6 linked regions of the Homo sapiens genome follow. The protein of the gene in region 4 purifies or fractionates together with the protein of the main gene of each other region. This does not show direct contact. Each region holds a gene or a part of one and is shown on either strand. Other genes may lie near its edges. The genes, in order: FGF12, CKAP5, NBEAL2, YBX3, MAP7 and ABCB7.

Region 1 (5,370 bases), on a different chromosome or scaffold from region 4:
TTGCCATTCCCTTATCCTTTTTCTTTTGTGCTTTTAAGTTTTTGAAGTACCAACCTTATTAGGTTTGGTGTTTTGTGCTACTGATTGACCAATAATGGTTTATTGCATCTCTTAATATTGGGTTTCCTGATTTGTCACATATTTACACCCATAAATAACGTTCGTGAAACACTTTGTACTTTTTCAAAAGGCTTTTAATATATACAATCTCCCTTAAAACCCTGTGATTTGGCATTTTAACTTTATTTTATAGATAACAAAACAAAGGATCATAAAGACTAAATGACTTAGGCAACTCATCTTACCTCTGTTTCTCTGCAAAATAAAAATTCTTATACCCATCCCAAGTGCTGTACCATAATATCATGATTATGAAATAAAACTCATGCTAATAAAGTATTTAGAACTCTTTAGAATTATAATCTGACTTTCATCATTTTTAGCTGTATCTCTCTTTACACTAGACTGTGAGATCCTGGATGGTAGAAATTGGTCCTCTGCCATTTTTGTAGTTTTAGCAGCAAGTATACTGCACGACACTCAATAAATCACCCTTCATTAACTCCCACAAAAACTTCACTTTACCAAAAGGGATTTCTTGTGTGCTTATTCTACAGTTTTAATAGTAACGTCTCCAACACCTGAATTTGTCTCTACATCTTATGGGTTTGGGGATGGAGATATATTGAGTCAAGTATTACACCTTGGATGGGTTTAAAACATAAACTGTGTAAATTCTGGCCACTAACAATGGTCTTAATCGGGGTACATCTCAGAACCACCAGACATCCTGTAATACCTGCAAGTCAGATATTTAAGAAACACTCAGGTGATGATGTATGTCCTCAATTATGAATCCATCGATAAGCTCCAAGATGGTTACTAGGAAACTATAACACATACATGTGTTCTTTATCAGGAGCACTATAGGACTTCTACTGCCTGGGCCTTGTCTTTTATTACCACCCTCTTTAGTGTTAAGAGAGTGTGTGTAGAAGAGAGATTTCATTTCTGTACTACAGACTTGGGATTGAAAATAGATATGCAAAATAGATGGCAAGAGTTTGAGGCTAAGATGACATGCCATTTTCCCCAGCATCATCTTCCTCATCTCCTTATTAGCATCCTTGCATGCAGAGCACGGTAGGATTTTTTAAGGATCTATGTCAATAGTTCTAATTTTAGCTTTCTCATCTCTCCAGTTACTTTTTGAAATAGTCTCTGTCTCCTTGTCTTTGGGAATGTGAGACTCCCACCCAGGGAGGCCGTGGTATTTAACTGCTGCGATGCTGCTGATGGCACCTAGGCAGAAGTCCCAAAGGACACCTGTTGCCCCTTCACAGATCTTTTCTTTTTTCTTTAGCGCATACTCTGCCTGGCTTTTTACCTGAAACAAGCCCCATTACTAATGATTGAAAAAGCACACATAATTGAAAGTGGGACTTTAAACTACGTGATAGAAGTAAAGGCATGCTGCCATTCTGTGGTTAGGTTTTTGTTTCTTTCTTGTTTGTGGATTGGCCATTAGCCTGAGAAGCAACCCAAAGGGACTAGACTGCAGAAAAAGAATCCAGAAACTTTCAGAGGCTGTTCAGAAGATAACTAAATGCACCAAAGAGTCCTTTACCAAGCAGGCAGGAAGAGGCAGCAATGCCAATCTCTCCCTACCTCATTCACTTCTACAATTATCACCCACGTGAAACAGGTTTTCCTCGAATCCTCCAGTACTGATAGCACTCTAACAGATTGAACAAACCTCAACACAGGTAATTTGGGAAATTTCTTTTCAGATACTTGGGAACTGAAAAATCTAGATATGCTTCCTGCTTCAAAATGTGTTGGGTTGTTTTTCTTGTTTTTCTTTTTTTTTTTTTTTTTTGCCCTTAGTCTCTTTCACATATTATAATAAATTGGGGTTAGATACTCTACAAACAAGACTATTATATAAGATTTATTATATGATCATTCTAATTGTTTAAATCTGGAAAATTTAAAATTAGACTATTTACACATTTTATCTAAAGGCTTTTCCTTCATTTCAAAACATGTTCAACATTTCTAGCACTATTTAAAATTGAATTTGGTTTACTTCTTTCTTCTGGGATTTAAAAGAGAAATATTTGCTATGTATCAAGATAAAGGTTTTCATGTAAATCACTCTTTATTTTCAAGCCTACAAATAACTTAACATGAGATGAAATGAGTACTTTTTTACTATGGGCTTTGATTTGCATCAGCATAAAAAACAAACGATTATGCAAATATAGCAAGACCCTCAATAACAATAACGTAAACATGAAGGAGACAACTAAAGCAATAGCACAGACCAATCAGTGCCAGTCTTTTAAAATGAGACCATTGGTTGATTGATTCAATAAGCAGTATTTCCTTAGAACCTGCTGTTTGTTAGCTGTTCTAAGGCTGAGCTTTTCTAACTGTAGTATGCACACTGGTGGAATTATGACATTGTATACTCTGGTGATACACTGAGGCATAAAATACACATGGTGCATGTTCCAATGAAATATAACTAATATTCTAATGTATTAATCTAACAGACTACTTAGATTATTCTAATCTAATCTATTAAATGCTAGAAGATCTGGGATCAGGTTCTCGTTCTTCTATTCCATGGATGAACCTCAGTGTACTAAACCTCTCTCTCTTTTTTTTTTTTAACTCGGTTTGCCCATTATTGATTTTTATTTTCTTGTTACAAAGAAATTGTTATTTTAAGCTTGTTTGTATTCTTTCTTGATCCTCTTTAGGCTTAACTTCTACAGAAAATAAACAGGGTGATCATAATTACCACATCAAATTTTAAGGACTCAGTGTGGGTTTGAGCTAGCTTTTTAATGCTGTGAATTGTGCAACTGAAGTTGTTGGATTTATAACTTTATTGAGGAATTAATTTGATTCTGAGTGAGAAAGCACTAAGAGGAAAAAAGTGCTACTTGGCTAAAGTTTGTATATGGCATGATTGTGACCACATAGGTAACAGGTTCATGTCTAAATTGATGGATGGCTGCAGTGGCCTTGTGGAAAAGACGCTGTCTTGGGGATCCGGAGACCTGGATTTGAATCCTAATTCCCGCCCCATCTTCAGTTTGAGCTCGTGGCTTTCTTTCTATGGCCTTGTTCTTCATCTGCAAAACAAGAGTGGATTAGAGGCAAGATTCTTTTCACTTCTGGGATTGAAAGAACCAGCATTTGTGAAGTGTTTATATAGGAACTACAGTGGATACATTCTGTTTAAAGATTTATGATCAGCTGCTTGTTCTCTCCTATCTCTTTTGGCGAACTTGATGGCATTTTTGCTTAGCAGATTGTACATTATGTTTTTATAACGTCTTTTCTTCACCCTCATATGTGTCCTCTTTACAATTAAGATGAGTTTATTTATACAACAGTCATATGTGAAGTTGATTTGGTGGATATGGTTTTCTTCTCTCTGCCAGCCCTAACCAGCACCTTCTTGCTAAAAAAAAAAAAAAAAAAAAAAAAGAAAGACTAACAGAATAATGACAAACAGTCCAAGGGCTGAGTGTTTTACTGACATTATTGATAGGAAGTCTGATTTTCTTTAGTTCTCAATCATTAGTAATATATTACTAAAAAACAATTGCACTCAATCCTTCATTGCCTTCAAACAATTTAAAAACCAATAACTATGTCTTCCAATGTTTGATTGGCTACTGATCATTTTAGATAGAAGAAGCATTTTCTACCACCAGATGAAAGCTATCCAAGGTCTAAGGGTTTCATGGTTAATAAACTGAATTTCTTGATTATGCGAAGAATAAAAGAAAGGGAAATATCTAACAGCCATTAACATGTTTATGAACATGGGTTATAATCAGAAGTGTTTATGACATAATGGTAATTATAAAAATAGTACATGTGGATATATGCACTAATTATAATGTAAAATTTGGTCATTGGCAAATAGTAGATTGTATTATGCAAAAAGTGACAATATTTGGATAATGACGATTGAATTATAAGTGGAGTTTTATCCTTTTTCACATATTTTATTACAGTTTTTTTCCCATAAAGCAGATTTTCTTTCTATGCTTTATGGGGAAAAAAACTGTAATAGGTGTTGGGTTCAGTTATAAACTTAAACAGATCCAGCTAAACTTAAAAAAGCTCTTTATTCTTCATGCTTTCATGCTTTATTCATGTCAAACATTGAAAGGACATTTGGAAAGATAACTGAGTCTTTTGAAATAATGCTTTTGCAGCTTTTACTATGTTTAGGCACTGTACTTTACATATATTGACTCACTTAAGCCTCATAAAAACCCAATGAGGCAGGCACTATTGTCATCCCTATTTCAGGGATGAGAAAAGTCAAGCATAGAGATGTTAAGTAATTTGCCCAGGTCACACAGCTAGTAAGTTGCAGACTGGCTTCAGAGTCTATGAGCTTAACCACTACTTAACACCCAAGGCATACTTTAGTATAGTCTTATAAGCCAATCAACCTTCCTTTGTTACTGAAAAACTAGTCCCACTGTGTATGTACAGATTTTATTAACCTTCAGAATACCCAATCTCTGCAGGCTTAGTCTCACTCAAGCCCTGGGCCAATAAGATACAGACTTGAGGAATCACTGGGCCTTCCTGCCTGTTATCAGGTGGGTTCAAGAAAGAACCCACTGCTCTTATGTGCCTTAAGTTGGCTTCCACCCCTAGGGGCTTAATTAAGCATTGGGTTGCAGCTTCTTTTTCTAACCCTCACATTGAATAACTGTTCTGTTTACCTGGGCAGCTCAGTGGTGTGGTAGAAAGATCGTAAGACTTGAAATCAAACACACAACTAACAACTTTTTAGTCTCTGTAACTTGGGTAAGATATATTTCTGTATCCTTGCTTCCTAATTTGTACAATGACGCTCTTTCTAGGTTAATGAGACAAACGAGGAAAATATATATAAAGAACCAAGCTTAAAATTAGTACTTAATAATTACAGCTGCTACTGTTGTTATTCTTGTTGTTAGCATTTGACCCTTAGGCTTACTACTTCCTCTGCTTCTGTATGGGGCTGGATTCTTTCCTTAAAATCCCTAAGATTCCTCTTCATCTTACCTAGTTTTATTTTGCTCATTTTTATCTGTTTGGAACCAGAGAATGCCATGCAGCTGTGGTATGCAGTTTAAAACAATGTAGTTAAGATATACTCGTTTTAAATTATGCAATAAAAACTGAGTGGCAGTGACATCAATTGATTCCTATACTGATTTTTTAAATCATAGTTTTACTATTTTTTTCCCATTATCTGGCTTACAATGAAGTCTAATTTCTTCAGAAGAAAGAACCTGACTATTTTAACAGGGATGTTGACGTTGTTGGCTGGGTCCAGGAAAC
Region 2 (4,603 bases), on a different chromosome or scaffold from region 4:
GGAGGCTGAGGCTGGTGGATCACCTGAGGTCAGGAGTTGGAGACCAGCCTGGCCAACATGGTAAAATCCCGTCTCTACTAAAAATACAAAAACTAGCCGGGTGTGGTGGTGGGCACCTGTAATCCCAGCTTCTCAGCTGCTTGGGAGGCTGAGGCAGGAGAATTGGCTGAACTCAGGAGGCAGAGGTTGTAGTGAGGAGAGAGGCATGCCACTGCATGCCATCCAGCCTGAGCGACACAGCAAGAGTCCCTTGCAAAAAAAAGAATCATAGAACTTCAAAGATACCCTTTCAGAGCACATTCTTCACGGTTACTGTTGGCAGAGGTCACAGGTGTGGGATGGAGCATGGCTCCGTCTTGAGAAGTCTCATCCATGAGCTCAGGGAAAGAATGAAGATCAACGTCTGCCTCAGGCACAGGATAGTGGAGTGGAGCAGGGAAACCCTGTGGCTACAGTACCTGGCCTAGGATCTTCTAACGTGGTTTTCCACGGGAAGGGACCTGAGATAGGGATCTTTAGCACCCTCCTCATAACGTTTTTTTTTTTTTTTCTCATTTTTCAACACATCAGAAAACAAACAGGACAGAGTTCCTTGGCCTCATTCTTTGGTTCTGGTTGACTGAAAGGCAGTGAGCTTGCAGGATTTGGCAGCCCAGGGCATCAACTCGATCAAGGGGGAAGGGATTCAGAATTACTTGTGACATGCAGGACCTGCTTTTTAAACAAGAACACACATTCTCATAAGTCTGTTTTCTTCCGACATAGCGGTCAGTGTTGTAAGCTCTAGGGACTTGGGTTTTTCCAGTCAGCTGTGCTAATTCCAGACAGGAGTACAGCCACTCTTTTTTTTCCTCTTCTTTTGTTTCCCTCCTCTTTTTTGAGACAAGGTCTTGCTCTGTTGCCCAGGCTGGAGTGTAGTGGAGTGATCACGGCTCACTGCAGCCTTGACCTCCTGGGCTCAGGTGATCCTCCCACCTCAGCCTCCCAAGTAGCTGGGACTACAGGCTTGAGCCACTATACCCAGCTAATTTTTGTATTTTTTTGGTAGAGCCATGTTGCCCATGTTGGTCTTGAACTCCTGGGCTCAAGTGATTCACCCACCTTAGCCTCCCAAAATGCTACGGTTGTATGAGTGAGCCACCAGGCCCAGCCTTTGTAGCCATTCTTTCTAAATATGTCTTTCCACTATAGCAGCAAACGCCTCCATCATCCCTTCAGTGAACAAATACCCACTCCCATGTTCCCACTATAAAGGAGAGACAAGTTTAATTTCAGGAGGCTCCGGGGCCACCTGAAAACGATGACTGGAACCTTTACAGGATTAATCTTCCATCAATCTTTCATTTCTTGGACATCAATTGAATTGAAGGTGGGCTACAATAGGAAAGTTCCTTTGAACTTTATAACTGCCCAAAATCTCCTCCTGAATCCAGAACCTTTTCATCCTGAAGAGTTTTTCTGACTGTGGAGGGAGGTCCTGTGGAATTTATTCCAGAGGTGAATACTCAGCTCACTTTCTCATCCTTACTCTGACTGAATGTGAAGCAACTGTTAGCCTGGACCAAAAGAGACTCATACAACCAAGCAGCAAACCACTAAGATTTCCCAAACTCCATTAGTCAAATGAACACAAATCTAGTTGTAGTGTGAGAACCACTGAAGCCCAGCCAATCTCTGGGCGCAATCTTGTGTGCCTTTGGTCAGCAAAGTGGTAGGATGCCCAAGAGCTTCTTGAAACGACTGGTGATAATTGGAGGGAAATCATGACCAAAATCTCAAAACAAGGAAGGATGAGATTTTTCTGCTCCCTAGGAGCTGTTTGTGGAGAGCAGGGAAGGAGAGTTCCTTCCATTCCAAAGGAATAAAAGACAGCTCCAAGTCTGTGAGCCAAGAAAAAGGGAAGCTCTGTAAGCAGTAATTAACCTTTCTCTAACTGGCTGAATACCCAGCTGGTACCAAAAGTTAAAAAATTGCTGCCCAACACTCCATGATATGGAGCATCTTGGGAGTCAGGTATAGTTAATGCAAACTTTATTTATAAAAGACTCTTAAATTAGTTGTATCATGCCATGCATTCATACAGAATACAGTGACCCTTCAGGGCGACAGAGAAGAGCTCACAAACTGAAAGGAAAACTATTAAAGAGTTTCTAATATTAACTATTAAAAAGCTAGGAAAGATTAGGACAATTTTACAAATGAGCAATTAAAAAGAAAAGAAAAGGATCTGGGAACTAGACTGAGCAGAGAGGGGGCAGCTGTTTACAAGTCTGTACACTAAACTCATCCACGGACAGTCTTCTAGAGCAGCAGGACGCTGACAGAGAGAAGCAGAGTATGTACAAATACTTGTGCCACAATGACTCCTCCCCCTAGCTCCACGGCATGATACATACAACCAGTTTGTATACACTAGGCCTGCTGAGGCCATTTTAAACTATGAGGACTTCTAGTTTAGTAAACTAAAGCTGCAGGGTGCCGGGGGAGTGGGGCAGCTTCATTTGCGACTGCTCTTTATTCTCTCCAGTCTTTTTTTCAAGTCGTCTATGTTAGCTGTGGAGGAGGAGGAGGTCACAGTTCCTGAAGAGTGAGTCTGGTTAGAATCCAGGTCTGAATGCTGGTGCTGCTCCCGTGACTCCCGGAGCTGAGAGAGTTTGCTGTGGAGCATGTCTGTGGAAGAGGCGACAGTAGGAACTGCTGGTTTGGAGAGCAAAGAGGTCAAAGGAGGTCGGTCATCTTGCTATTGAGAGAAGGAGAGAGATTGTCTAAGGTCAGGTCAAGCAGGTCAAGATGCAGCTCCAGAACTACAGCAAGACTAAGCCACTTCTCTGTGGGCCAGCCTGCCTCGGACCTGCTTGTGACTACCCTCCCTGAACTGCACAGAAGAAAAGGAGCAGTACCTTTGTGTTGTCCAGACCACATCGCTGTCGGAGGATCTTTAGCCTTTCCAAGTAGACAGATGGCCCCACTTCTTCCCCATTTGTGTTACCTATGGAGGACACTGTGCTTGTGGGCGTGGGCACACATGTGACTTCCATCTGAGGGGAGATGCCTAGAGGGGAAAAAGTAGAAAGAATATTCAGATATCCACATATCCCCCTTCTAAAGTGCCTTGGTTAATCTCCCACCAAAAAGAACAATTAAGAATTTCCTATACTTGAAAACGACAAATTCCACAAGAATCTACCTGGAGTTGGTGATAAGGGTGCTCTGAAATATACAATATAAGCTTCTTGAGAATGCAAAAAACTGATATAGAAAGGCAGAATGTAAATTGGGTCATCCATCTGCATCCTGGGTTATGCAGGGGATTGTACTCCAGTAATCCCAGGGCTGACTTGGGCAATCCAAAAAGCTGAAGCTACTCCTAAGCATACTGTAATTGCCCAACTGAAAAACCCGAGGACCTTAAATGTTTGGAAGAATTAGATTAAGTTTGGACCAATGTCACATAGGAGAAACTCATTTGAACCTGTGAAGGAAGCAAGGTGTCCAAGGCTATGGTGTATTCATGGGGAAGAGAAGGTGTCCAACAATTATCTAAAGAGGGCATAGAACTGGAGTGTCTGTAACCCTACCACTAAGATCAATATTCTGGCAGGAGAGAGGAAAACCAAAACAACAAAAAATCCATCACACTTCCTAAATTTCTGAGAATGAACAATGATACAATGCGGGCCTTTAAAATATTTCACTTGGTATCAATGCAAATGCATTCCACAGGCCCCAAAGGTAAGGTACTGGGAGGAAACACTGCCTTATGGTAAATAGAAAAGTAGAAAGGTTACTCCAGGGAAAAAGGACTCCTTTAATGTAAAGATGAGGAGAATCCTCTGAGGGGGTGAAAAATGAATGAAGAATTATGTAAAAGCCAGCAATATGAGATGTCTGAATACTCTAAGGCACAAAATCAATTTAATAATCAGTGGGAATACATGCTTGGGTTGCAAATGTGCTGTTTAGGCCAAAATTATCACACGTTGAACATCCCCAAAAAGGGCTTTGGAAACAAGGATAGGATGCCTGCCCTGATCAAACCATGGTATGTTTACATGTGGCATACTGTTGGACATTCTGCACACCACACTTTAACTCCTAAGAGGTCTTTTTCATTAAAGACCAGCCTGGGCAACAAAAAGAGACCCTGGCTGGGCACAGTGGCTCATGCCTGTAATCCAAGCACTTTGGGAGACCAAGACAGGTGGATCACTTAGAGGTCAGGGGTTCAAGACCAACCTGGCCAACATGGTGAAACCCTCTTAAAAAAAATTCAAAAATTAGCTGGGGGTGGTGGCACACACCTATAATCCCAGCTACTCGGGAGGCCAAGACATGAGAATCACTTGAACCCAGGAGGCAGAAGCTGCAGTGAGCCGAGATCGCACCACTGTACTCCAGCCTGGGTGACAGAGTGAGAACCTATCTCAAAAAAACCTCAAAAAATAAAAACACTTGTAAAGTCTTGGAAAGGCGTAATTTAAGGTGTCAAAAACAAAAAAGAACTCCTATTTAAGAGAACAAAATTTAACTGAAGCTTCAGCCCAGCAAGATACAGGCTGAGAGTGGATATGATCAGGGTCTGAAAAACACAAAGGGACATGCT
Region 3 (5,370 bases), on a different chromosome or scaffold from region 4:
ACCCTTCTTTGGGGGACTTAAGGGTGACAAAGACCAGCCCTGAGAGTCTAGCCAGCTTCCCAGATCCTTAAGCCCCAAAGTGAGGGCCCCAGCATGAGCACATACCCTTCCACTTCCCCATGATGACCAGGGCTTAGTTTCTCAGATGCAAATCTCTTGCTGCCTCTGCCCTGTGACGGTTGGTGCTTCCCATGCCGTGCTCTGGGGACTCTGCTGTATCTACTATACTGATGCCACCTCCCCCCACGCCCATGCCTTTGCCTGGGACTTCTAGGGGCTTTCACAACCTAATACGTAGGAGGCCCACCTGGCCCTGCGCCAGCAAAACTGGACAGGATGCCAGGCCAGGGACTGAAACTCAGAGGGCAGAAGGGACTAGCCCCGGGTCACATGCCTGGCAGAGGAGGAAGAGTAGGGCTGGGGCTTGATTCCGGCTGGATGGGTGGGAGGCCTCCTTGGGGATGGGGCTTTTGAGGGGAGACCTGAGAATGCAGTTGGAGGGGAGAAGGCACAGCATGGGCTAAGACCCTGAGGTGGGGTCAGTGGTAGCAGTCTGGGAATGAGAGGACAGAAGCCAGGCTGAGCAGCAGGGCAAGTGGAGAGAAAGGCTGTGGGAGGAGTAGGATTTCATCTTGAGGACGTCAGGTTGACATCAAGGGATATGATGGGAGGAGAAATGAAATCCAGTTTGTTTTAATAACAGCACCCAGGCTATGGGAAAATAAAGTCGAGGAGCTCCCTAGGGGTGCCTCCCCTCCTGGAGTTGCTGCCCCAACTCTAGATCCAGGCCCACAGCTCCATGGGGGCATCACTGAGACATTTAATATCCCAATAGGTCACCACCTTTTCACAGCCCTGCCCACCTCTGTCCAGGCCATATCCCACCCTGAGCCTATCTAAAGTCCTGGCCAGTCTCCCTCCAATGAGAGGAGAGAGGGGACCCAGGGGTGGAGGGTCACCAGGGAGAACAGGTTCACAGGACCACCTGTGAACAGGCAGCCACAGCTGTCCTGGGCACCAGATCCTCCAGCAGCCAGGGAACAGGAGGTGGAGATACCTCCTGTGTCTCCGGGATGGGTGGAGATGCGTGGAGGCTATGGGGACAAAGGGATTGGACCAGAGAGTTTTAAGATCACAGTAGGGTACAAGTGGCTAGAAGGATCCAGGAGATGGCGGGGAAAGAGGATGAGAAATCTGGGTAGGCAGGTTGACCCCACCCCTCCACCTGATGGGAGGCCCTCGCTCCAGCCCAAGATGTCTTCTCTTGTCTCTGTCCCTAAACTCTTGCTTGGTCTTTGGTTCTCCCAGTCCTGCATGCAGCCACCACCAAGTGGTTCCTGTGTATGGCAGGATCAAGGAACGACAGGAAGGGGCCTAGGTTTGGGGGTGGAGCCAAGTGGGGGCAGGGGCGGGGCCTGACCTTGGAAGAAGGCGCTGAATTCCTGGGGCAAAGCAGCAGGAGGGAACTTGTATTTGCTCTTCTCCTTGGAGCTGATGACTTCCCTGGGGGCAGTGAGGCCAAGTACATCAGCCCGGCTCTCACCACTCCTGGCCGTCACCCCTCCTTGGGCCCAGCGCGGCCATCCTCTCCCCACCCTCCTCTGGGTTCCCTTCCTGTGGGCTGGGTCTCACCCACTGCGCTGGCGCCGCCAGGTTTGGTAAGGGTCAAAGAGGCCCTCGCAGAGAAGCAGAGCATGTAGGGCCACATTCTCCAACTGCGTGCCTCGGCCCTGGGGTGGTGGGCATCCTTTCAGCTGTAGGTGTGGGGAGAGAGGGTTAGCCCCGCCATGGCTACCGCCTGCCTCCCTGCATACACCCTCTGCCCCCCAAGGTAGAGGCCACTTCACCTCCGCCACCAACTTGGTCAACAGTGCCAGCACTCGGGGCACTAGCACTTGGCCCCGGCCTGCCTCTATGTTCTCCAGGTTCCTGGGGGAGTCAATGATGAGAGAGGTCACAATAATACACCATGCCCCTCCTTGTCCCCTCTCCCTCTGGCCCACAGTTCTAGGCCCCTGCTTGTAGAGTGGACAACAGAGACACCTGCAGAGAATGATGAAGAGCTTGAGCAGCAGGAGGGCTTGCTCCAGGTCAGCCTGGTGCAGCTGTTCGGCCAGCACATGCAGCTCATCCAGTGGTAGCAGCGGGACCTCTGCACCTGCCTCCTCTGGCCTGCAAGGAAAGGGGAGACACGGGTGCTGAGGACCCCTCAATCTCCCTGCTCTGTCCCTGCCCTCAGTGCAGATCCAGCCTCACCTTCGTGGCTCCAGAGAGGACAGTGAGATGCTCTTCTTGAAGGCACCTACAAAGGCCTTCAGCCACTGCTGCAGGTAACCCAGGTCCTTCTGTAGGCAGAACAGGGGAACAGTGGTGGGGGGCAGGAGGGATGCAGTAAACAGGGCAGGGACAAGGGGATGTAGACAGAGGCGAAGAATGAATGGAGGTGGACAGAGGGCATGGACAAGGGGTTAAAGGCAGAGTGGAGGGTGTGGAGAAGGGGAGTGGGGGACGGGGGAGGGAGGGCAGGACATTGGAAGGTCAGCATCAGAGAGTTAGGTACATACTGACCACTTTTCCAGGCACCCCACTGCTTCTCTCAGCCTCCCAGTTTCTGCTCCCACCTCCCTAATGCCTGCAGTCCTAGGCAGGTCTGACACAGCCAGGGGAGGGGCGTAAGTGGGGTGTGGCTGTGGCCCACACTGGTGCTAGGGCTGGAGAAGGTGTCCCACACAGCAGCCACCCCCTACCAAGAGCCTTGGGCTGGGTCCTCATCTGCCATCTTCACCCAGCCCAGCAGCCACCACCTTCAGTAGCCTTCTTTAACTGTGGATCCCAGGACACACGTGTACCATTAGACAGGCAGACCCAGACATGCGCACATCCTCATGTGCGGCCCTGCCTTGCCCCGGGAACCTCCACCCACCCTTGCTGGTTACCTGGACCCCAGGCCCCAGAGCTGGTTCCATGGGCAAGAGGGGCAGTGGCTAAGCCCAGGTCTAGGCGCTGCCAGGAAAACTTTGGTGTGAACGGGAAATGTCTCCTCCCGCCCCGGGGCTGGGGCAGGAAGCGCAGAGTCACGGTGGGGGAGGGGGACCGCTTCCTCCCGGCAGACCGCAGGGATGTGGGGGGGCCGGGGCACCCTGGGCCCCAGTGAGAGAGGCTGCAAGCGACCTGGCCTGCACAGAGGGTGGGACCTGTTACAGAGGGGTGGAGTCACCTGTCCTGGGTGGGGCTTGTGGGCCAAGACTAGTTTTACAAGCATGAGGTTGGCGCCTGGAAGAGCTCTTATCCAGGTGAGGGTTCTGATCCTGCTGCTGCAGTACCCTTCACTTAAGGCACCCACAGCTCCCTGACCTGCGCGCAAGGCCTCAGGCCACAGGGGTCGATGTAGAAGACTCAGCCATACCTTTGTCCCGCCCCGCCGCCCGCCATGTCCTGGCCACCTCATCTGAACTCTGCAGTTCTCTTCGCTCAGGAACACAGCTGATAAATCCTAGCCTAGCCCGTATCTGCTCTAATCTCTAAGCCCCTCCCAGGGGCCAGGGGTGGGTTGTGGCTTATACAGGAGCTCCTCCAGGCTGGCCCCATATGGAGCTCCTAACCAGCTGAGTCCAAAAGGCAGCCTTCTTTCCTAGAGTCAGAGAGGTGGACAGGGGGAGCTAGAGTGGAAAAGGATGAAGAGGCAAGGGACACATCACAGTCAGCACTCAGCAGGCCTCAGGCTGCTCCCCAGGGGCCATGGGCCTCATACCCAAGGACCTCCAGAACTATCTTTGGATGGATGGCTAATTTTTGCAGCCTATGGGCCCAGACCACGGGCAAGGCCTGAATGGCCCCAGGGCAAGAGGCCTGACTGCAGCAGACCTGAGCCAGATCCCCAAAAAACCTAGGCAGAGCAGCCGTCCACCCTGTGATTGGGGAACTCCCTGGTACAGTTTAGTGCAGATCTGAAGCCCAGACAACTCAGAGAGGTGCCAGGGCCACCATGGTGCAGACCCACACAACCATGACATTTTGTCTGTCAGTTACATTTATTGACCTCTCCACCCTCTCCTGCTGGCAGCCTCCTCCCGAACAATCAGCAAGGAGCCCAAAATACCCAGATCCTGAGACAGCAGAGGTGGCCAGGGGCCCTGGACCATTTCTTCTGAACCTCTCCCATTGCAGATGGGGAAACAGGAGGCCCCACAGGGGATGCCTTATCTACTACTTTGTCTTCAGTGTACCTTTGAGGATGCTAAAAGCCAGACCTTAGTTCTAGGCCAGGACCACTCATGATTGCTAGCAAGCCAGCCCATGAGGACCATGCGGGCCCCGATCCTTGCCTCAGTGGCCCCACAGAGACCCCTAGCTGCCTTCAAAAATGTCCCAATACTGTCTTCCTCTCTTCTGCCCCTCAGTCAAGCTAGTCACTCAAAATGTGAGTCTTCCTGCCAGCTGCAGCTCTACTGAGCACCTGAAAGCCCAAATTTGACCGTGTCTAACCCCTCCCCATAAAGGCTCAACTGCTGAGCAGCATTCCAGGCTGCTGGTCCAACCAGAACCTGCTTCTCCAGCTTCCACCTCTCCCCCTCTGTGGTTCACATCCTCCTATCCAGGCCTTTTCCCACCCTATGCCCCACTGCCTTGTGTGACTTGGGCTTTTGGTACTTGAGCAGGAACCTCCCACCCTCCTGGTGGCCATCACCTTGATCAGCCTTCCCAGCACAGGGGTGGGTCCCTCAATCTCTACATACTCCTAGAGTATGTAGATAGTACTTTCTGTCCCTAGAACCACACCCTTGGCCTGTCCAGTCCTGTAAACTTTCAGCAGATTGGGCTGAGCTGGGTTCAGGGCTGGGACAATCAAGACAGCCTTCAGGGGCTCTGAAAGGGGATGACGAGGTCTCCAAAGCACAGTATTAGGCAGGGGTGGGGTGGCTGCCTGTCCTGCCTCCCTGGGTCTCACTGTTTCTCCCTGGAAGACCTCAGGCCAACTCTGACCTAGGCCCCATGGCTTGAGACTGCAATGTGTCGGGGTACGGGAGTCCCTCAGGGAGCCAGGGTCAGAGGGCAGAGAATGGCAGGGGACGAGAGCATGGTGGCAGTGCTGCATGTGAGGGTCCAGGGCCTGGGAGGAGTGGCCATGATGCTCAGGCTTCCCATGCCCCTCTCAGAGCTTCTGCCTTGGTCGGTTGTGCCAGCTCTGAGCAGGAACACGGGTCAGGGACAGTCCAGCCCCTTGCCCCAACCTAACTGGGTCAGGGCCCCAACCCTGTCCCCCACTGAAGGCAGGTCGGGAGCAGCCACACCTGCCAAGCCCTCTCCAGGGTCCATAGGTAAGTGATGCCCAGGTCCTGCAGCAGGGGAGAAGGTTGTGGGAATGTGGAA
Region 4 (5,370 bases):
AAGCTGGCAGTGGAAGGTCTGATTAAATGGTTAGATTTGGAAAATGTTTTAAGCATATAGAGGTGTTGGCATTTCATGATGGATTGAGTGAAGAGTATGAGGAATGGTAATATATTGTATGAGGAGTAAATAATACCTCTGCAGTTTTGATTTAAACAAATACGGGAATACTGAAGAAAGATTGGGTTTGGAGGGAAAGGTGAAAATTCTTTGGAGGTCTTTTTCTCATATTAAATTCACGTACAAGTGGAGGTGTTAAGTAGGCAGAAGAAATAAAGCAGAGGGAAGAGGTAGAAAGTGGCTGGAGGATGGAAGGTGTAGTCTTAGATACAGTGGTTGACAACATTTTTGGGAGTTCATTAAGTTGTATTTGAGAAGAGACCTAAATGGAGCAAGGGATCAAGTCCATCAGGTCCCAGGAAAGGCGTGAATGGGAGTCTGAAGGGGAGAAATGGAACTGCAAATAATTATTTGGAATTATTTATTTATTTATTTATTTATTTATTTTTTGAGATGGAGTCTCACTCTGTCACCCAGGCTGGAGTGCAGTGACACGATCTCGGCTCACTGCAAGCTCCATCTCCTGGGTTCATGCCATTCTCCTGCCTCAGCCTCCTGAGTAGCTGGGACTACAGGCACCCGCCACCACGCCTGGCTAATTTTTTGTATTTTTAGTAGAAACGAGGTTTCACTGTGTTAGCCAGGATGGTCTCAATCTCCTGACTTTGTGATCCACCTGCCTTGGCCTCCCAAAGTGCTGGGATTACAGGCGTGAGCCACCGCTCCTGGCTGATTTGGAGTTATAAAACAGGATGTTTAAAGCCGTAGGGGCAGGATGATATTAACTATAAAGTGAGTGTAGGTGGAAATAGGGTCCTAGGATCAAGTTCTGGGACACACCAACGATTAAAGATTAGGAAGATGAGGATTGTCTAGCAAAGGACAGTGAGAAGGAGCAGCCAAGGAGAATGTATTTCAAGAAAGAAATGTGTTAAATGCTTGTTGATAAGTAGAGATTAAGCTGAGAATTGATTATTAGATTTGGTAACTTGGAGGTCAGTGGTTTGGTGAAGACAAAAGTTTAAATAGAATGAACTTAAGAAACAGCAAAGGGCGGGAAGAGGAGACATATTCCCCATTGAGGTTTCTGTAGTGGTGGTCATGGTGTTTGGTTTTTCTTTAGTATGTATGTCTGTAAAGAAATGGGGTAGTAGCTGGAAGAAGATAAGGGATCAGAGCAAGATTTTTGCTTGATTTGATTTGCTTTTTACAATGCAGAGTTACCCCTGGTCTCTCCCTTACCCGTTACCTCACCAACAACTTCTAAAGCCATTAAATGGGCAGATCAAGGTAGGCACGTGTGTTTGCCATAAACCCACATATATATATACACACATACATAGACACACATATATGTGTAACATTGTGTGTGTGTGTTCCATGGTTCTGTCTACTGAAAGGTCCTGAAAGCCGTGATATCTTAGTAACAGCATTGAGCATACCTGTCCCCCAATTTTTTGTTTTTAAATAACATTCTCAAACAAAAAGAATTCCCTTTGGAGAAATGGCTGATTTCAGAGCTGGGACAGAGAAAGTATAATATGAGCCTGGAACATCTTGTTGTGCCAGAAAGCGAAGAAGTACTCAAAGAATGTTGGAAACACATCAATAGGATATGAGCCAGCTTGAAGGGGTTCCCATTGGCCAGTAATGATAGTAACAGATTACAACTCATTGAAAAAAATAGAAAACCATGAGTCCATACAAATATAAATAAATAAACCAATATATTGAAAAATTTGATAACGAATAGTATATTTATGCACTTTGTAAGTACTTCCTCACAAAGTACTCATTAATTACAAAGAAGGAAAGAGTCAACTTACAGTGGAGGACTCTGGTGGCAGATACCACCTTAACCACTTATCAAAGTGAACATTATCAGTAATGGCACAAATTGAAACTATATGCCACCTGACAGGATGCAGTGAGGAGAATGCAGTGTCACTTTTGTGACATCCCCCTGGGGATGCAAAAACAATATCTAATCATTAGTGAACACCAATAACCCAAGTTGAGGGATATTTTACAAAATAACTGGTTTGTAATCTTTAAAGAAGTATCAGGGTCATGAAAACCAACGTGGTGGCTCATGCCTGTAATCCCAGCACTTTGGAAGTCTGAGGTGGGTAGATCACGAGGTCAAGAGATTGAGACCATCCTGGCCAACATGATGAAACCCCGTCTGTACTAAAAATACAAAACATTAGCTGGGAGTGGTGGCACATGCCTGTAGTCCCAGCTACTTGCGAGGCTGAGGCAGGAGAATCGCTTGAACCAGGGAGGCAGAGGTTGCAGTGAGCTGAGATCGCGCCACTGCACTCCAGCCTGGCGACAGAGTGAGACTCCATCTCAAATAAATAAATTAAAAAAAACTGCTCCAAACAAAAAGATATAACTTACTTTAGTGCATAATTCTAAACGGTGTTTTTGCTATAAAGGGCATCATTGGGATAAATGGTGAAACTTGAATGGGATCTGAGAATTACATTTAACTTTTCTGTAACTTTGTGCTTATTTCAAAATTTTAAAAAATTGAAAAGGATGGGTGCTATTTCACTGGGTATATATGCTTGGATGGAAATGATAGAAAAGGTGAAAACATAGTGAAGGGATAGCGTTAACATGCTGTGTCTAGTTGATGAGAATAGAGAGGCTGTTGGTTTCAGATATGAACTTGGACCACTTACCCAGGGTAATGGGAGAGAAGAAAATTCTAATGTAAATACAGGGAGCTGGGTAGATTTGCTAATGAGAACGTGGAAATTGTCTTCTGACTGTTTCTCTTTCTTGATGAAATAATGAAGGACAGTATTTGGCTCTTAGGGGGAGGAAGGGATGTTTTGAGAAAAGAAAAGAAAGTTGAGTTATGGCTGTATGGTCAAGAATTGCAGACATTGTTGGTGGGTTTTTTTGTTTTTTTAAGTTGTTCTTTCTTTCCCCTGGAAGTTGTACAATAAGTTAATTTTATTCCACTGGCTTAAAGTAAGTTTGTTGTAAAGAAAAATAAAAGAGTATTTTATTTAAAGAGATGAATGAAATGTATCCGATTTCAAAATGTTAAATTGATAGGCGAAAATAAAGTTAGGTGCTCTGGGACTAAGCAAATGAGTATTCTAGTCAGACTAGGTTTGTCTTCCTTTTCAGTCGTTCACGAAGATTTACTCATAAATAGTTTGTGTTGCAACTGAGAGTGCCTAATTTTGTAATGAAGCATTTTGTTTTTTACTTCTAAAAAAAATTCTGAACATAGCTGTATGCACTGTATCTTATCCCCTGTGCTGTGACACTCACTGTCAGCTCTCATTGCCTCTCCAGGCTGGTGAGATTGGAGAGATGAAGGATGGAGTCCCAGAGGGAGCACAACTTCAGGGACCGGTTCATCGAAATCCAACTTACCGCCCAAGGTACCGTAGGTATGTCGCATTTTCCACTAATGGCCAGTTAAAGGACTTGTGTGCACAATGGTAGAATGAGGACTGTGTGGTTCCGTTTTGTGGATTTATTATATATCTAGAAGATGTGAATGCTTTGACTACATGCCAGAGTTTTCAGGTGGTGGTGTGACATTTCCCACCTACTTAATACTAGAATTTTTAGTTATCTCTGCGCCAAAGCGTCATTTTGTATTCTGGAATTATAATAAGATGTAAATTAATACTTAATTTTTATCAAAATAAATCAGATAAATTATTGGTGGGCAATTCTGTGGTAATGCTGCAGATGGAGGAAGAATTGAGTGTCAGAGGATATTTGGGATAGTGACTGTTAATCACTGAGGCAGTCCAGTAGAGGGGTTAAATCAGGGTATGATCAAATCGCCTGAATTTATCTTCCTACTCTACAGTTCATTAGATGTATGTTCTTGGACTGCATTCCAGCCTGCGCAACAGAGTGAGACCCTGTCTGAAAACAAAGAGATATTCTATAGTTGGGGATTAAAGGTACTAATGCAGCTAAGATAATTAGTGTGGTACCTGATAAAGTAAAGGCCTCACTATGTATTAGATATTATTACCACCATTGAGGTTAATATTAGTGAACGCTGGGTTATTCTATTTGTGCTTTATTCCTTTGGAAGACTGAATTAGGCTAGACTCCTTCCATAAGATCCCTTTGAAGCATTTTATAATATAAGCCTGCCCATTCTTTTATCTTACCCTTTGTGGTAAGTGGAAAAGCTACAACTTCTTCCTGAATGATGTTTATGCTACCTTGAAATTTGTCAGTATGGCTTTATTGAAGGATAAAAAGTATATTATATTGGGAAAGGATTCCACCAATATAATTGTAAAAGGATCGTATCCTTTTTCTTCACAAGGTTCCCTCCAGCTTTAGGCATAATCACTAATGATTAAGTACTAGGGACTTTGAAAATAAAAGAGACGGCATAGAAATGTCTTACTGGAACAAAAAGGATTCAGTAGCGTGTGAGGCTCAGCTTTGTCAGTCCCTGGATATGTGATCTTGGAAAGTCATATTTGACCTTTTTTAACCTATAAAAGCAGCACTTTTATATAGCTCAGCCGTATACTTTATCATGTAAACCTCTTGGTTTTCTTGTTATAAATCTCATCCACAGAATTACCATTCAAATTAAATATTTAATTTTAAAACCGACTAGCACAGGCTCTGGCACATAATAATGTTTCTTCTCATGTTTAATTCCCTTAGTCTCTGCTAAATTCTGTTCATGGAAGGCAGATACCAGACTACTCTTCTTTTCTTTTTTAATTTTCCTATTCTTAGTGCTTATCAAAGGGCCTGATAGGAACAGAGTATGTGTTCAGTATATGTATGTTCCTTACAAATATGTATTCAAATGAAAGGGGAAAATGATGGAAAATTAAGATTTTTTTTTCGTGAAACCTCTATTCCATTTGTTGCATTGACCTGCGAATAATTCTAGCAATAAGTACTCATCACTTGACTTTTTTTTTTTTTTAATTTTGAGATGGAGTCTCCCTCTGTCACCCAGGCTGGAGTGTGCCAATCTCGGGTTGCTGCAACCTCTGCCTCATGGATTCAAGCAATTCTTATGCCTCAGCCTCCCAGGTAGCTGGGATTACAGGCATGTGCCACCACGCCCGGCTAATTTTTGTATTTTTAGTAGAGATGGAGTTTCACCATGTTGGCCAGGCTGGTCTCAAACTCCTGACCTCAAGTGATCCGCCTGCCTCAGCCTCCTGAAGTGCTGGGATTACAGGGGTGAGCCATCATGCCTGGCCCTGATCACTTGACTTTTTAATTTTTAAAAATAAATAAAACCTTATTTTCTGGAGAAGCCCTGTCCTGTTGGCACCTGTTCTA
Region 5 (5,370 bases), on a different chromosome or scaffold from region 4:
GGTTTTCACCTCTGCCAGGGTAACCAGATGCTACTTAGAAATGTAAAACCACCTGGAGCTTGAAGTTCAATATCTCTAGTTGAAAACTGTCTTCATTCCAAAGTTTTCTACTTAAGACTTAATTTGAAGATAGAGGGTGGGGCAAGAAAGAGGAGATGATTCAAGACAGGTGAAAATGGTAGAGAAAGGAGGAGTCCAGTGTTTGCTTCCATGGAAAAAGAAAGAAAGGAAAGGAGGGTCATAGAACATCATAATAGCCATGAAAAAAATCTGTGGAAGCAGAAGTAGAAATGTAAATCTCAAATCATACATCCAAAAGCCTATTGATAGAGCCACAAACACGTGAATTCAGGTGTAGGTTCTCAGTGCTTTTATTGGCTGAGTCCATTTCACAAAATGTGTTCAGAGCACCTGCATCAAAATCACCTGTTGTATTCATTATCTATTGCTGCATAATGAATTAGCAGCATGAAACAACAACAAACATTTATCATATCACATGGATTCTTGGGTCAGGAATTTGGCAGCAGCACAGCTGGGTGGTCCCTGCTCAGGACCGCTCATGAGATTGCAGTCAAGCTGTCCACTAGAGCTCCAGTCATCTCAAGACTCAACCAGATCTGAAAGGTGGCTTACATACAAGGCCGGGGGCGGGTGGCCTCAGCTTCTCCACACATGGACCGCTCCATATTATTGCTGAATGTCCTCATCTATCTGCTTGCTCTGCTGGCTTCTGCCAGAGTGAGTGACCTGGAAGAGAGAATGAGGAGGAATGTACAATGTATTTTATGACCCAGTCTCAGAAGTCGCACACCAATGTTTCTGCCACATTCTGTTAAGTAGAAGCAAGTCACTAGGTGGAACTCACACTCAAGGAGAAACATAGTCTCCAACTTTTGAAGAGAGAGTTTTCAAAGAATTTTTTTTAAGAGTTCAGCTTTTTATTGAACTTGTTACAAAAGAGGTTTAGTCAAAAAGACCAAAGCCCATATCCTCCTTGGACTCCTCAGACTCTCTTTTCTTTGCTTCTATTTCTTCTCCTCAGCTGGAACAGCATTGGTGGAGGGGGCAGGACCTTCTGCTGGTGCAGGTCCACGAGCTCCTCCATTGCAGATGAGGCTCCCCATGTCAACATTGGCCAAGGCTTTTGCAAACAAGCCAGTCCAAAAAGGTTCAACATTTACACCAGCTGCTTTAATGAGGGCATTGATCTTATCCTCCTTGACGGTCACCTCACCCTCATGCAGAATGAGGGCCGAGCCTTATGCAGAATGCAGGCGAGCTCAGAAACAGAGGCCATGGTGTGAGCAAGTGTGGGGCTGGCACTGCCAGGCAAGGTGCTAGTTGCCAGATGAAGTGAGGGTTCCACTTCAATGTGGCCCTACATTCCTCAGAGGGACCGAGTGCAGCTTGGCAGCAGCTGAGGAAAACTGGAAATATTTTTAAACCACCACATCTATAATGTTTTGACATACAGACCCTTGGTTTTTACCTCAGACTTACTAAGTCAGAATATGTAGTGGTGGATATGAGGACTCTGAAAGATACTAAGCTTGTCAGTTGATTCCTAAACATGGTTGCCAGATAGAACACAGGGTGGCCAGTTAAATCTGGCAATGCTATTCCTGTGCATACTGGAGTTTAAGGACCCCTGGTATAGCCTGTGTGCTTGATAGAAGTCAGAATTTTTTTCCAGAAGGCCCACTGGTTCTCACCTCTGCCAGGCTAGCCAGATGCTATTTAGAAATTTAAAACCACCTGGAGCTGTGAATTCAATATTTCTAGTTGAGAATTGTCTTCATTCAAAAGACTTAATTTGAAGATAGAGGGTGGGGCAAAGAAAGAAGAGATGATTCAAAACAGGTTAAAATGTTAGAAAAAGGAGGAGTCCAGTATTTGTTTCCATGGAAAAAGGAAGGAAAGAAGGGCTAGAGCATCATGATGGCCGAGAAAAGTCTGTGGAAGCAGAAGTAGAAATGTGACTCTCAAAAGGAGGGGCTGGAGCAGCCAGGGGCCAGAGCTTGCACTTGCTGGTGCCTTGCTCACTGTGGTGCAGAATTGTGAGCATCAGTGTGGGGCTTCTGGGGCACCAGCTCTCTAGGTCATCTTCCTAAATCCGAGTAAGGCCAGAGAACTTCTGCTCCCATCTTGCATCTTGGCAGCTTGGGATATATAAGCAGAATGAGCACCAGCTCCCAAAGAGGCCCCGAGCTCCTCCCATCTCAGACCTAGAGACAGCTCTGGGGAGACAAAAGGGTCCTCTTCATAGGGTATCATCTTCCCAGGCTGAATCTGGACTCATGGCATGGATGCTGAGGATGCTGCTCTAGTAATGAATGGTTACCGAAGAGTAGGAATTTTCAAATGCAATAAAAGACAAATGGATGATCTCATCTTCTTTTTGCTCAGTGTATAACTCCCCACAGACTCTAACATGAGGCTTTGTACACATTCAATATATGTTAACTGATTTAACTGGTATAAAAATAAGACTTGGTGACAGAGTGTCAGCTTTGTTGGATGTCTTACTTACACATACTGATTTTTTTTATCTGTTGCTTGGTTACAGATAGAACATAGTGAAACCGTGAGAACACACAGTAATAAACATTCCCTTTTCTTTCATAATGGTAAATTCTAGGCCTTGGATGTGGGGAATGCTAGTTTTGGTTTTGTTCTTTGGATTTTGTTTCCAACTGGTTTTCTCCTTGTACCTATTTGTGCAGCTGCTCCAGCCATGGCCCCAGCTCCAGCCTCGGCCCCAGCTCCAGCCTCGGCCCCAGCTCCAGCCCCGGTCCCCACCCCAGCCATGGTCTCAGCCCCGTCATCCACTGTGAATGCCAGTGCTTCTGTTAAGACTTCTGCAGGCACCACCGACCCAGAGGAGGCCACAAGGCTTCTAGCTGAGAAGAGGCGGCTGGCCCGAGAGCAGAGAGAAAAGGAAGAAAGGGAGAGGAGGGAGCAGGAAGAGCTTGAAAGGTAAATGGGAGACATTGCTCCACACCATGGTGTCAGTGATACTTTGGATTAACTCATCACCCCTCTGAGAGGGAGGAGGTGATAATACTGATGAAAGTGAATGGATTAGTTCTTTCAGGATTACTCTTACCTAATTTTCCTATGACTACTAAGCAGTTTGTTTTTTAAATCACATCTTCTTCTTTTTTTTAAATAGAAATGGGGTCTCACTATATTGCCCAGGCTGGTCTCAAACTCTTGGGCTCAAGGGATCCTCCCACCTGAACCTCCCAAAGTGTTGAGATTGCAGACATGAGCCACCATGCCCAGCCATGTTTTCTTATTTTAATGACAGTGCAACAACATTGATGGAGAAAGCTTTAAAGAAAAAAAAAATCCATAATCATACCAATTTTCAGTAATAGTGTACATTTTGGGTGGTCCTTTCTAGTCTCTCAACAGTATGGGAGTGTGTGTGTATATATACATACATATACATATTTACATAATTATAACCACAGCAGAGGTACAATTGTACAGTCTGCTTTTTTACTTAACACATCTCCAATCTCCAGGTTTCCGTTTTATCTTTGTAATTATCACATTAAGGCTGCATAATAAGGGTTCATGTTTTCTCCTTTCCAGATAAAACTCCTCTCGGAGGGTAGCCAGGTGGGATCTTTACATGCCCCATGATTGCCTGCCAGGCAGTATTCCAGAAACAGTTTGTTTAATTGGTCATCTTCTGGGCCTAATAAGACGAATGTCAATATAATTGTTCTTCAAACGAACACAACTGTACCCTGGGGAAGGATCTCATGCACTCGCTGGACCGCCATCTTGGCCATGCCTTTCCCTTGGCTCCAACAGGGAGCTTACATGGCTGTCTTCCTCCTGTCCTGTGACAGAACACTGTGACCCTTATTTATTTACAAAGATTCCCTTTGGCTGGGGTGCTTCAAATTCATTACTAAGAAGTCACATTATTTGAATTAAACAAGTCAGAGCCTTTAAAAAATAGTTAAATTCCTTCCAAAAAGCCAGCTCTCCCCAAGATATTGGTGGTTACACGTTGCTTCTATTTAGCACGGACAGCAATGCAGCTGGCAAGGCGGGAGGAAGTCTAAGGGTGGCTTCGCGCTTTGTCCCTTAGCAGTGGTGAAGGCATCCAGTGGGGATTTTTCTACTGGACGCCTAAAGGAACCGCCCTACAGAACCACCGACGGAGGCCTCTCTTCAAAGATTTCTCCTCAGGTGTCTTTGGTTTTGGTTTTGTTCTGTCTTTTTCCAGACAAAAGAGAGAGGAATTGGCTCAACGTGTGGCTGAAGAGAGGACGACTCGCCGTGAGGAGGAGTCGCGCAGGCTGGAAGCCGAGCAGGCCCGGGAGAAGGAGGAGCAGCTGCAGCGGCAGGCGGAGGAGCGGGCGCTGCGCGAGCGGGAGGAGGCAGAGCGCGCCCAGAGGCAGGTGCGGCCGCACCCCACCCTGGCCCCGGCCCCAGTCCCGCAGGGAGACGCCCCAGCCCAGCAGAGGAGGGTGCGGACTGGACTGCTGGTGCTCCCGCTTTCCACACCTTCTCCATCCGCCACCTCGCCCCCACCTCTGGGCACCCCCTGGGAGACCCGGGCAGCCCGCCTGTTTGTCAGAGGCAGACGCCGACCTTCTGTTTTCAGAAAGAAGAAGAAGCTCGCGTTCGTGAAGAAGCAGAGAGGGTCCGGCAGGAACGAGAGAAGCATTTCCAGAGAGAAGAGCAAGAGCGCCTGGAGAGAAAGAAGGTAGCTGCGTCTTAGTAGAGAGGCCCGGGACGCGAACTTGCACCTCTAAGACCCAGAGACTAGCCCTGGCCGTCAGAAAACGCGTGTTCTACCCTTGCCACATAAACTAGTAGCCCCCTCAGTGATAACAATCTCCTGCAAAGAAATCTCTCTCGGTGTTTTAGCCGTCACCAAAAAACACTTACTTCCACTTCATGTAGCTTAAGGCAGTTCCAACTTTCTTGAATAACCCCAGTTAAGACAAAGCAGCACTGCTGGGCCGGGTGGCTCATGCCTGTAATCCCAGCACTTTGGGAGGCCACGGCAGGTAGATCACCGAAGTCAGGAGTTCGAGACCAGCCTGGCCAACATGGTGAAACCCTGTCTTTACTAAAAATGTAAAAATTAGCTGGGCGTGGTGGCGGGCGCCTGTAATCCCAGCTACCTGGGAGACTGAGGCAGCTTGCGCCCAGGAGGCAGAGGCTACAGTGAACTGAGAGCTTGCCACACGGCACTCCAGCCTGCGTGACAGGGCAAGACTCCATCTCAAAAAAAAAAAAAAAAGTGCATATTGTATTTTTCCAAAATAACAGACCATTTTAAATAATCTATTTCATCAGTTAAATATGCCAGGCTGGCTTTTTTTCTGTGTCTAATCT
Region 6 (5,370 bases), on a different chromosome or scaffold from region 4:
GTAGAATATAAAGAAAATAGCAGTGCTTTTTACATCTTAAGTGAAGTATTGTTTCATGAACTTTTATGTGTATATACACACACACATATATATTTTATATATATATATACACACACACACACGCACACACACACACACACAGTCCCACATGTATGTGATTACTGGAATTCATTGTAAGTATTTCTCACCCAGTATATGCCCTAGACCTGGGTTGTGGAATATGGTAGTTCTTTTGGATAGGTACTGTTTTGTTTTCATTTGTTGGTCTGACCTCATGGACCAAGAATGGGAGCTTTAATTTCTCCCAGTAGCAAGTTCCACCTTCCTACTCTTCCACCATTGGCTGCTAAGAGTTAGCAGAGTAGATAAAAATTAAAATACTTTACTCCTGGCTTTCATATTAACTGAAGTGGGAATATAATAACAACACTAGGGAAATAATCCTCCTATTCTATATTTTAGAGGTTCTAGTTCATATTTAAATTTAACAATATAAGATGCCTATGAAGAAACTACAGTGATTATTCAACAGTCGTCCCAAAATATACTAAAAGAATAGAAAACAGAACTTATTCATCCTGGCTAACATGGTGAAACCTCGTCTGTACTAAAAATACAAAAAAAATTAGCCGGGCATGGTGGCGGGCTCCTGTAGTCCCAGCTATTCGGGAGGCTGAGGCAGGAGAATGGCGTGAACCCGGGAGGCGGAGCTTGCAGTGAGCTAAGATCGCGCCAGTGCACTCCAGCCTGGGCGACAGAGCAAGACTCCGTCTCAAAAACAAGCAAACAAACAAACAACAACAACAAAAACAGAACTTACAAGAGAAATAAGGGTGTCTTTAAGTGGATTATAGATCATGGAACTGAAAAGGGTGAGAGGTGATTCAGTGACATTTAAAGTACCTGAAGCGGCCTGGCCCAGTGGCTCATGCCTGTAATCCTAACACTTTAGGAGGCCAAGGCAGGTGGATCACCTGAGGTCAAGAGCTCGAGACCAGCCTGACCAATATGGTGAAACCCCGTCCATACTAAAAATACAAAAAGCAGCTGGGCATGGTCACGTGCACCTGTGACTACAGCTACTCAGGAGACTGAGACAGGAGAATTGCTTGAACCCTGGAGGCGGAGGTTGCAGTGAGCCGAGATCGCGCCACTGTACTCCAGCCTGGGCGACAGAGCGAGACTTCCTCTCAAAAAAAAGAAAAAAAAAAAAGGACCTGAAGGGGTTATTTGTAGTTCAGTGATGCCTAAACTTAACTGGAACATTAGGTTATGATACAAAGATGTGGACTTCATTTGCAGGAAGAGGGATTTAATGTGCATATGAGAAATAATTTCTTAGACTAATAGTCTATCTTAGTCTGTTTGGGCTGGTATAACAAAATACCATAAACTACATGACTTATAAGCAAGAGCAATTTATTTCTCACAGTTCAAGGTGCTGACAGATTTAGTGTCTGGTGAGGTCTTGAGGTTCATAGGCGGTGCCTTTTAGCTGTGTCCTCATGTGGTAGAAGAGACAAGGCAGCTCTTTGGCCCCTCTTATAAGGGAACTAATCCTGTTTATGAGAGCTCTACTCTCCAAGTCCTAATCACCTCCCAATGACTCCACCTTTTAATACCATCACATTGGTGATTAAGTTTCAATATAGGAATTTTAGGGGGACACAAATGTTAAAAGCATAGTCCTTTTATTAGGAGACCAATAAAGACTTTTAAAATTATTAAACAATAATTTGCTGTCATTAGAAAAATACGAGCTGTTAGGAAGCAGCCAGCTTGGTTTTGAAAAGAGCAAGACATACCAAACCAATTATTCATATGAGTGAGTGACAGTCTATCTTGATTTCAACACGGCTTTTAATTGTCCCCTACATTGTTCTCACACAGTAAGCTTGGAAGGAATGATATTGAATACTATTAAGAGGTCTTGAGGTAGGAGTAAGCCTTACTGTAAAGAAAATACAGATGACTTAAAAGATTTTTATTTCTAAATGTTAAAAATAATGAAATAACTGGTGTGCAAAGGGCATAACTTGGTATTGTGGGATGAACACTGGACCAGGACACTTGACCGCCTGAGCTCTATTTGTACTGTTAATTATCTTGGACACATAACTTGTTCTTTTGGACATCAGATCCTGTAAACTAGTAATATTTGACTACCAGATCTCTAAGGTTTCTTGCAACTCTCTTGTTTCTTTACTGTAATCCTTTAGGACCAGCCCTTTTTATATAGTACCTCTACTTTGTGATCCTAGTTTACTACTGGTGTAGTATTCAGGAGCAACATAGGGTAAGTTTATGTTCACATGAATTTTTAATGGGACAAATTTGTATTGTTCTTGTCATATTTGTATATCTAAGAGTAGGAATAGAAAAATGTAATTTAATTATGAGCTTAGTATTTGGTAGTGTTGGGAGGATGGAAGTAGTGTGGAGGAAAAAGTAAGCTAGGTTCCGAAATCATCTGGGATGGTAGAAATAGATTCTAAGGGGTGGTGAAGAATAACAGTAATGCTATAAAAGTTGTAAATAAAGATATACCTTACATGGGCTGTATATGGTAAGGAATGGAAAGTGGCACTGGGACTTGAGAAGAGGAATTCAGGGGATTCTTTTTTCAGATATAGTTGAATAAATAACATTCTCTAAGTCATTGACACATTGGTTTTAACTAGTTATTAAGATTATTAGGAAGAGGAAGAAAATTTCATGTTTCTAAACTTTCTTTTAGAACACGAGGCCCTTTGAGAATCTGATCAAAGCCATAGACCTTCTCCCTAGAAAAATATACATACGTATGTGCTTCATTTTGCATGCAATTTCAGGGGAATCAGAAACCTATCCCCTCTTCCAGTCAGTAATCCCTGATTAATACAATATTGCTGGCTGGTGGGTTTCTAATGGTGTTCCTGAGTAGCCAGTGGCAAGATAAAGAGCACTTGTCACTGGGCAGCGGGGTAGAAATAGAGTGGAAACTTACATCAAAATTTTGATTAAATGATAAATGCATAATTGATCATTTAATTATTGTTATACAATTGTTATAAAATTAATATCATTTATTGCTGTATTGTTGTCAGTGTTATCTTAAAGATTTTGCTTTTTCAAAGAAAAGTATGTTCTTTCCCATATTGTAAAATAAGGTATATAATAAGAGATAAAATTGCCCATTCTGTATACGATTCTTATGCTTTACATTGTCCCCATTTTAATTATACAAAACCACATCTAATAAAAACGTCAAGACAGATATCTACAATCCCACATGTTAAATAATTTTTCCTTTTTCCTTTGAATCTCTGTTCTTTCATGTACATAATTTTTACATTATTGGGATAATTTTAAATTCTGTTTTTACTTGTGAGCATTTTTTTTCTTGGTGCTCAGTCTTGACCAAAATTAGGTCTTTTAATTACTTAAGATTTTAGTAATGTTAATAGGTATATATAGTTACCTGCAAAATGTGATATTTTTGTTGTTTTGATTTTCTCCTTCCTTTCCTGAAATCCATCTCCCTGAAGTCCTCATCTGTGCTCTCTTGACTCCCTTGTAGGATTTGCCACTAGTGAGTAAAGATACTTTTCAAGTCTTTATTTAATGTCATTTGGTCTTCACAGTAATCCGGTTAGGTAGATGAACATTTCTTTGTAGTAGCAATGGCCTCTTCTGTCCTTTTCAGTCCCTTAACTTCTGCCCTAGTTTTAGACCCTTATTACTTTATGCATGGGTTTTGTCCCTGCTTTCAGGGACTTGCCCTTTCAATCCATCCTATACAGCACATCTAGATTATTCTTCCTAAGGCATGACTTTTATCCCATCACTTCCCTGCATAAACTTCAGTGGGCTTTATATCTTAGCCTTAAAAATTTCCACCTAACTAGATTGCTAGCCATATTGTAAACTGTTTCTCTACAAATACCCTGTCCCTCCAGTCACCCTATATTGTTCCCTGTTCCTTGGACCATGTGCTTTTTTGTGTCTGTTCTTTTTTTTATGCCACACCCTATGTCTGAAATGCCCTCTCTCTAACTGGTGCCTATTTTTCAAATGTTAGTTCAAAGGTCAGTCCGTTCCCTGAAACCATTCCTTATAAGCTAATAAGACTTTGATTTCTCCCTCCTCTGAACTCCTACAACACTTTTTCCTACAAGTAGTTATGTATCTTGTGGAGGAGATAAGATTTTATGTGCCTAAAATGCTAATATATTCCAATCATCTTTTTGTTTTTATCTTCCACAGAGCTAGGCACGGTATGTTACATGTAATAGGTAATCAGAAAATATATGTAAAATGAATGATTAAACTCTATAACCAAACCAAAGCAAAAATCTAACATAATAATTAATAATATTTGCTCCACTGCTATACATTTGGAATTGAAAGCTAACTTTCTTCAGGGCAACCTCATAAGTTTGTCCGTTGCATTTCTGTCATTAGGCATATGGTACCGTGGTGGAGTAGCATCACTGATTGTTGTCAGTTTTAGTTCAATAACCAAAGCACACTTACTTTTTATCCTAAAATTTTTGAGTTACTTTATTTGTGAGCATCATTTGCTAAGATAAAGTGACTTACAGGATAACATTCTTTGAGGAATAAGATATAAAAATTTGCTGTTTGTAGAAATTTTAACTGCACACTGTATTTTGGGATGTTCATTAGTCCTCTGATTAAGTTTTCTTTACAATATCTAGAGAGGGATGGATATTAAAGTAGGGAAACCGCATCCTAAGGGTATAGTTCCTTAGGTGCTGATGTTTTGGGAGAGCAACTTTTAAACTTCTGCTTTTCAAAGCATATTAGAAAAAGACAAGGTGAAGCTTCGATTTTGGTTTACTTATAAAATTGTTTTTACTGATCTTGAGTAACTTATACTATAATATTGTAATATATTCATATTTTTGAGTGCATGAATGTTTGCTAAGTATGAACTCTTTCTTCAACTACTCTGACTGTAGTGACTTAATAACTGTGCATGTACATGTGTGCTTGCCTGCTACGTTTGCCATAACACCACAGATTGGGTGGCTTATACAACAGAAATGTATTTTCTCACAGTTCTGGAACCCATGAAGTCCAAGATGAAGGTGTCAGTAGAGTTGATTTCTTCTGAGGTCTCTCTCCTTGGCATGTAGATGGCCATCTTATACCTCTGTCTTCACACTGTCTTTTCCACTGTTTGTGTCTGTGTCCTGATATCCTCTTCTTAGAAGTATACTGGTCATATTGGATTAAGGCCCACCTTAATGACCTCATTGAACTTTAATTACCTCTTTAAGGGCCCTGTTTCCAAATATAGTCACATTCTGAAGTATTAGAGGTTAGGACTTCAACATATAAATTTGTGGGGGTGGGGAGTACACA

Evidence for each region.
Region 1: the proteins of YBX3 (region 4) and FGF12 purify together in Homo sapiens (pull-down; one large-scale study listed by IntAct). This does not show direct contact.
Region 2: the proteins of YBX3 (region 4) and CKAP5 fractionate together in Homo sapiens (co-fractionation; one large-scale study listed by BioGRID). This does not show direct contact.
Region 3: the proteins of YBX3 (region 4) and NBEAL2 purify together in Homo sapiens (tandem affinity purification; one large-scale study listed by IntAct). This does not show direct contact.
Region 5: the proteins of YBX3 (region 4) and MAP7 fractionate together in Homo sapiens (co-fractionation; one large-scale study listed by BioGRID). This does not show direct contact.
Region 6: the proteins of YBX3 (region 4) and ABCB7 fractionate together in Homo sapiens (co-fractionation; one large-scale study listed by BioGRID). This does not show direct contact.

What each region holds. Positions count from the first base shown.
Region 1 is NC_000003.12:192,716,296-192,721,665, reverse strand, and holds part of FGF12 (fibroblast growth factor 12), read left to right. Parts: intron 1-5,370. UniProt on the Homo sapiens protein: Involved in nervous system development and function. Involved in the positive regulation of voltage-gated sodium channel activity. Promotes neuronal excitability by elevating the voltage dependence of neuronal sodium channel SCN8A fast inactivation.
Region 2 is NC_000011.10:46,741,526-46,746,128, forward strand, and holds the end of CKAP5 (cytoskeleton-associated protein 5), read right to left. Parts: intron 3,053-4,603; coding exon 2,901-3,052; intron 2,741-2,900; coding exon 2,498-2,740; 3' UTR 1,523-2,497; downstream 1-1,522. UniProt on the Homo sapiens protein: Binds to the plus end of microtubules and regulates microtubule dynamics and microtubule organization. Acts as a processive microtubule polymerase. Promotes cytoplasmic microtubule nucleation and elongation. Plays a major role in organizing spindle poles.
Region 3 is NC_000003.12:46,985,644-46,991,013, reverse strand, and holds part of NBEAL2 (neurobeachin-like protein 2), read right to left. Parts: intron 3,025-5,370; exon of another isoform or gene 2,967-3,024; coding exon of another isoform or gene 2,937-2,966; intron 2,653-2,936; exon of another isoform or gene 2,569-2,652; intron 2,346-2,568; coding exon 2,257-2,345; intron 2,173-2,256; coding exon 2,044-2,172; intron 1,930-2,043; coding exon 1,848-1,929; intron 1,755-1,847; coding exon 1,633-1,754; intron 1,504-1,632; coding exon 1,421-1,503; intron 1,346-1,420; exon of another isoform or gene 122-1,345; coding exon of another isoform or gene 106-121; intron 1-105. UniProt on the Homo sapiens protein: Probably involved in thrombopoiesis. Plays a role in the development or secretion of alpha-granules, that contain several growth factors important for platelet biogenesis.
Region 4 is NC_000012.12:10,702,157-10,707,526, reverse strand, and holds part of YBX3 (Y-box-binding protein 3), read left to right. Parts: intron 1-3,378; coding exon 3,379-3,476; intron 3,477-5,370. UniProt on the Homo sapiens protein: Binds to the GM-CSF promoter. Seems to act as a repressor. Also binds to full-length mRNA and to short RNA sequences containing the consensus site 5'-UCCAUCA-3'. May have a role in translation repression.
Region 5 is NC_000006.12:136,360,059-136,365,428, reverse strand, and holds part of MAP7 (ensconsin), read left to right. Parts: intron 1-930; exon of another isoform or gene 931-1,429; intron 1,430-2,726; coding exon 2,727-2,979; intron 2,980-4,249; coding exon 4,250-4,424; coding exon of another isoform or gene 4,425-4,493; intron 4,494-4,630; coding exon 4,631-4,732; intron 4,733-5,370. UniProt on the Homo sapiens protein: Microtubule-stabilizing protein that may play an important role during reorganization of microtubules during polarization and differentiation of epithelial cells. Associates with microtubules in a dynamic manner.
Region 6 is NC_000023.11:75,148,500-75,153,869, reverse strand, and holds part of ABCB7 (iron-sulfur clusters transporter ABCB7, mitochondrial), read left to right. Parts: intron 1-5,370. UniProt on the Homo sapiens protein: Exports glutathione-coordinated iron-sulfur clusters such as [2Fe-2S]-(GS)4 cluster from the mitochondria to the cytosol in an ATP-dependent manner allowing the assembly of the cytosolic iron-sulfur (Fe/S) cluster-containing proteins and participates in iron homeostasis.